2 separate regions of the Homo sapiens genome follow, and region 2 is linked to region 1. The links come from fine-mapping of genetic effects on gene expression. A gene starts in region 1. The other region holds a variant in brackets. All regions are shown on one strand. Distances are between the middles of the regions. Region 1 holds the start of PHYKPL (5-phosphohydroxy-L-lysine phospho-lyase). Region 2 has its middle 7.0 kb from the start of HNRNPAB.

What was found.
Region 2: its variant is fine-mapped to the expression of PHYKPL in left ventricle (GTEx, PIP above 0.99).

What each region holds. Positions count from the first base shown.
Region 1 is chr5:178,231,153-178,234,062 of GRCh38, reverse strand. It overlaps PHYKPL (5-phosphohydroxy-L-lysine phospho-lyase), which reads left to right and starts at 1,261. Exons shown (of 13, transcript NM_153373.4): 1 at 1,261-1,571; 2 at 2,540-2,658. The coding sequence starts at 1,513. LOC112267937 (a long non-coding RNA gene) reads right to left here and starts at 25. Exons shown (of 3, transcript XR_002956238.2): 1 at 1-25. RefSeq lists silencers at 1,027-1,436, 1,517-1,836 and an enhancer at 1,099-1,637.
Region 2 is chr5:178,196,106-178,199,015 of GRCh38, reverse strand. No RefSeq gene overlaps it. Among named protein-coding and RNA genes, the nearest start is that of HNRNPAB, 7.0 kb to the left of the region's middle. The variant G/T (reference allele first, on the strand shown) is at 1,675.

The DNA.
Region 1 (2,910 bases):
ATAAGACCCTTTCTTTAAAAAAAAAAAAAAATACAGGCCACAAGCAGTTAACCTCGCAGTTAATTTGGGAAGAATTTTTTCCAAAAATCATGTAAAATATTCAATTCAGCTTTACAGTTAAAAATAAGAAATTCCATTCTTTTAGGGAAGATGAAAAAGTCCTGTTGCATGGATGGTGGTGATGGCTGCACGACGATGTGAATGTACTTTTGCCACTGAATTGTATCCTTAAAAATGGTTAAAATGGTAAAATTTTGTTATGTATATTTTACACAATAAAGAAAAAAGAAACTCCAAATGTTCTTTAATAAATGCCTTAAGCGGCCGGGTGCGGTGGCTCACCCGGCCTGTAATCCCAGCACTCTGGGAGGCCGAGGCAGGCAGATCATCTGAGGTCAAGAGTTCAATAAATGCCTTATGCATCTTACAACTGTATTGGGAAGAGAAGAAGAAATCAGCAATGAGGGAGTGAAGCAGAGGCCTGGGAATCATGATGTGGACAGAAAGAAGGGACAATCAGGAGCCTCCCCTGCACCTGCTGCAGTCCCAGGCCCGTGTTCCAGGGTTCTTCAAGGCAGAAAGCCCCAGTGCCTCACCCCAGGAGGGGGCTTTTCTCTCATATCCCAGCCCCTTGGGAGGCTTTTTCTTCTCACTCCCTGGGCTGGGAGTCAAGAAGACCTCAGTAGGAGTCCAGCCTCTGCAGCCTTGCTGCGTGTCTGACAACAAAACCCTTTCCCTTTCTGGGCTTCAGGGTCACCGACATGTACCACAAGGAGGATTCCCAACCTCTCTTCTTGCCCAAACGCTGCATGATTCTCTCAGCGACGATACAGCTCGTCCGGTTCACCCTGCCTAGATTCTAGCAGGAACTATGGTGCCCTGAAGGTCAAGCCCATGGTGATCTCCTTGGTCAGCCCCAGAAGGGACCCTGGGCTCTCCTTCTGCTCTTCCTGCTGCCCCTTCATGGGGCTGGGAAAACCTAGGACCTGCTTCTCCCACCCTGAGGCCCCTACTGTGTACCAGGCCCGGGTAAGGTACCAGTCACATACTCGCACTTAGGCCTCACAGTTCATCCCATTTTATGCACAAGGCGACTCAAAGACTGAGTCTGGCCCAGAGAAGGCCTGCAGGAGCTCCGAGCCCCGCCTGGGCGCCGGGAGCAGGGGCGGGGTCGTCCGGGACCCTTTCCCGGAAGGGAGGCCGCAGGGGCCTGCGGGGCGGGGCCTGCGGGGCGAGGCCCGGGGCGCGTCCCGGAACCAGAGACGGGGCAGCGCTCGAGTTCCTGCGCGGGACTGCCAAGGCACGACCACGGGCCGGAAGGCTGCCAGGCCCAGTGGGCAAGCGAAGAAATGAACCACCGCAACGCGGGCGCTTCGGGGCGGGGCCGAGTGCGAACCTGAGCCCCAAATCCCGACCCAGGCAGGGGCGGGGCCCGGAGCGGGGCCTTGGAGGCCCAGCCCGCGCGGCGACGTCTCCGCGTGGCGTCACGGCACCGACTGACGGCCACCCACCATGGCCGCAGACCAGCGCCCGAAGGCCGACACGCTGGCCCTGAGGCAACGGCTCATCAGGTACCCGGGCGGGGGGCGGGCGGCGGGGGGCGCGGGGCTGCGCGGAGAGGCACGCGCACGCACGACGCACGCACGCACGCACTACGCACGCGCCTCCGGCTAGGAAGCCGCTGCTACCCATCCCGTCCGGCCGCTGCCCCGGCCCCGCTGGAGCTTCTAGGGCCCGAGGCGGGCGGCGCCGTTGGGCAGTCCCGGCGGGTGGTCTCCGGGGCCGCCTCCCCGACAGCGCCGTCTCCAGGCCGCCCAGTTCAGGAGACGGCCCCGCCCTCACCGCTGTTCGGCTGTGTCAGCCTCGCTTGGCAGCCTTTACTCCGGAGAAGACCTTCACCCTGGCGCCTGAGAGGACCTCACCCAGGGTGGCCCGTCAGCAGCACCTGGGCCTGGCTCGAGAGTGACCTGGGAGGGGGCTGAAAGGGCAGACAAGGGAGAGTCGGGGGAGTCGGTTCACAGGCAGCACACTTGACCTGTGAGGGGGCCCTCGGTGGGACGGTGGGTGAGGTCGCCTCCCACTGGAGCTTAGGGCTGGCACCCAGCGAGGGGCAGCAGGGCCACGTGGCTGGCAAGGAGCTGTTTAGGGCTGAGAGCCAGGCACCTAATGTTGGTGCCCTGGCCCATCCCATCGAAGACACGCGGCCTTATGGAGTCCCCATGGGACGGGGCAGCCACCTTTTCTCAGGATCCGGGAGACTGACGCGGACACATGCAGAAATGAGCAAGGAGGCCACAGAGGCTGAAAATGCTTTCAGAAACAATCCGAAGTTTCAGCGACTTGTTACCCCATCTGCTTCCTGCTTTGCAACCACCTGTGGAGTGGAGAGACAAGGCAGGGAAGCAGCACCTTGCCCTTCCAGCTCTCATTTCCCCCCCGCCACCAGAAACTGGGAAGGGGTGGGCGGGGGTCTGCGATGAGTAGACTTCACCCTTTCGGTCTTCAGACATGGCTGTCCACTCCTTGCCTGTCCCCACAGCTCTTCCTGCAGACTCTTTTTTCCCGAGGATCCTGTTAAGATTGTCCGGGCCCAAGGGCAGTACATGTACGATGAACAGGGGGCAGAATACATCGATTGCATCAGCAATGTGGCGCACGGTCAGTATCACACCTCAGGCTGGCAGGGCAGGAGAGGAAGGCAGTGCTGTGAACCTGGTCCCAAGGTGACCTGAGATTGCCGAGAGGTGTGGAGAACCTGGGTGGAGTTGAGGCACTGTCAGTATGCAGAGGAGGCTCAGCCTTCGCAATATAGCTGTGGAATTCTGCAATCTGGAGCTGTGCTAAACCAGGCAGGGGTCAGCAATCTAGGTCTGTGAGTCTAGTTCCACTTGGGACTGATGATGAGCTCAC
Region 2 (2,910 bases), 35 kb after region 1:
GCACGGGCCCTGCTGACAGCTTGATTTTAGACTTCCAGCCTCAAGAACTGTGAGAGAATACAGCTGGGTTGCTGTAAGCCACCGGGTTGCGGCACTTGATCACAGCAGCCCCAGAAACCAAACACAACATCCAACAGACTTCCTCCTCCTCCTATGGGAAGTGTTGTGTCATACCCCGAGGAAGGGTGCCCCTCAGAACATGGGCCACACTGTTGACATTGACTGTGAGCGCCCTGAGACCCTGCATCGGGTCTGTCTCCTCCACCCTGACTCCTACGGTGGGCACGCCAGTGCCTGCAGAATGAATACGAGATCTTTTTTTTTTTTTTTTTTTTTGAGACAGAGTCTCGCTCTGTTGCCCAGGCTGGAGTGCAGTGGCATGATCTCAGCTCACTGCAACCTCTGCCCCCTGGGTTCAAGCAATTCTCATGCCTCAGTCTCCCGAGTAGCTGGGATTGCAGGTGTGCGCCACCACACCTGGCTAATTTTGTACTTTTAGTAGAGACAGGGTTTCACTGTGTTGGCCAGGCTGCTCGCAAACTCCTGACCTCTGGAGTTCGGCCTCCCAAAGTGCTGGGATTACAGGCGTAAGCCACTTCGCCCAGCCCCAAATCTCATCCTGAATTGTAATCCCCATAATCCCCATGTGTCATTGGAGGGACCTGGTGGGAGGTAATCGAATCGTGGGGGCGGTTTCCCCCATGCTGTTCTAGTGATAGTGAGTACTCACGAGATCTGATGGTTTTATAAGCATCTGGCATTTCCCCTGCTGGCACTCATTCTCTCTCCTGCTGCCCTGTGAAGAGGTGCCTTCCGCCATGATTGTAAGTTTCCTGAGGCCTCCCCACCATGCGGAACTGAGTCAATTAAACCTCTTTCCTTTATAAATTACCAAGTCTCAGGTATTTCCTTATAGCAATGTGAAAACAGACTAATACTGTTTCAAACCAGCACCTTGTGGACTAAAGTTGACTCTTGAACCTACTTGCTTGCCCTGTACAGTGCTTTGTTCTGTTTTTGTTTTTGAGATGAGGTCTCACTGTGTCGCCCAGGCTGGAGTGCAGTCACTATTCACCTGCGTGATTGCAGCTCAGTGTAGCCTCAAACTACTGGCCTCAAGTGATCCTCCCGCTTCAACCTCCCTAGCAGCTGAGACTAAAATTGCACACCACCTCACCCAGTCCTACACAGTGTTTGGCTCATTTGAAAAAATTGTTTGCCAACATTTATGGATTATGACATTTCTTTCATATATACATATACACACATACACATATATATGTGTGTGTATATATACGTATATATGTGTATATGTGTATATATGTGTATATATGTATATATATAATATATACATATATATGCGTATATATGTACACATATATACGTATATATATACATGTATATACATATATATACACACACACATATATATACACATATATGTATATTTTTTAGATGGAGTCTCACTGTGTCGCCCAGGCTGGAGTGCAGTGGCATGATCTTGGCTCACTACAACCTTCACCTCCTGGGTTCAAGCGATTCTTGTGCCTTAGCTTCCCAAGTAGCTGGGATTACAAGCATGCACCACCACGCTAATTTTTGTATTTCTAGTAGAGAAAGGGTTTCCTCATGTTGGCCAGGCAGATCTCGAACTCCTGACCTCGTGATCCACCC[G/T]CCTCAGCCTCCCAAAGTGCTAGGATTACAGGTGTGAGCCACCGCGCCCTGCCGGATGATGGCATTTCTACACAAGGTTATACGTCCAGTTACTTTTGAAAAATTGTCAGCTAAGGTCACACTGGGCCACAGTGTCCTGTGTCCAGAATCAGTGGGAGCTGAGTCACAGTGACCCCCAGCGGATGAGGCAGGCACTGTCCAGCTAAACCCAGCCCCCACCATGTTCTAATGTCTTCCTCCAGGGTCCCACTAAACCTATTGACATTGACCAAGAGCATCTGAGATGTGGATCCCTAAGCAGACCTCCATGAAGTTCAGCTTCTTCATCTTTTTTTACATTTTTTCTGAGACAGGGTCTTGCTCTGAGTGCAGTGATGTGATCACGGCTCGCCTCGACCTCCTGGGCTCAAGTGATCCTCCCGTCTCAGCCTCCCACTTAGCTGGGACTACAGGCATGCACCACCACACCCAGCTTATTTATTTATTTAGCTAGGGACAGGGTCTCCCTGTGTTGCCCAGGCTAGTCTCAAACTCCTGGGCTCAAGCCATCTGCCTGCCTTAACTTCCCAAAGGGCTGGGATTACAGGCATGAGCCACAGCTCCCGACCTACTTCATCTTAAAAAAAAAGAGAATGGCACCTGTCTCTCCACCATCCTGCAGGGCTATGGGAGGACGGCTGCTAAGGGTTTAGAACAGCGCCCGCTGTGAGAGCTGCTGTGACTGCTAACAGCAACAGTGGAAGCATCCAAGGGAACATTCCTTTGCCTGCTGACACCCCCAGGCCCCCAGCCACCCCGCAACAATATATCTCAAAATACATCTCAAGTCAAATCCTTGAAACAGACAAGTAAGAGATCTGGAGAGAGAATCTGCTGGCGGCCTCCCTAAAATCACACATTCTTGCCACAGCCACCCCACGCCCTGCTGAGTCTCAGAGGCAGCCTCTGTCCATCAGAAACCAATCAGAAATGGCTAGAGCCCTATACTGGAATCAGTCCTTAATGAAGTATGTGATTCACATACAAAACCCTAATCCTCCCAGTTTCCTGGAGAGCTCACAAAGCTGCACACAGTGGGCACAGCTCACACAGGGGCCCGGCCTCATCTGCAACATTATCCCCTGTGTAGTCTTTGAAACTTCAGACTCCCTGACCTCTGGGGCTGGACTCTCACTTTTATGAAGCATTCTAGGCACCAGTCATTGGGACAGGGACAGATTTTAGGACTCACTACTG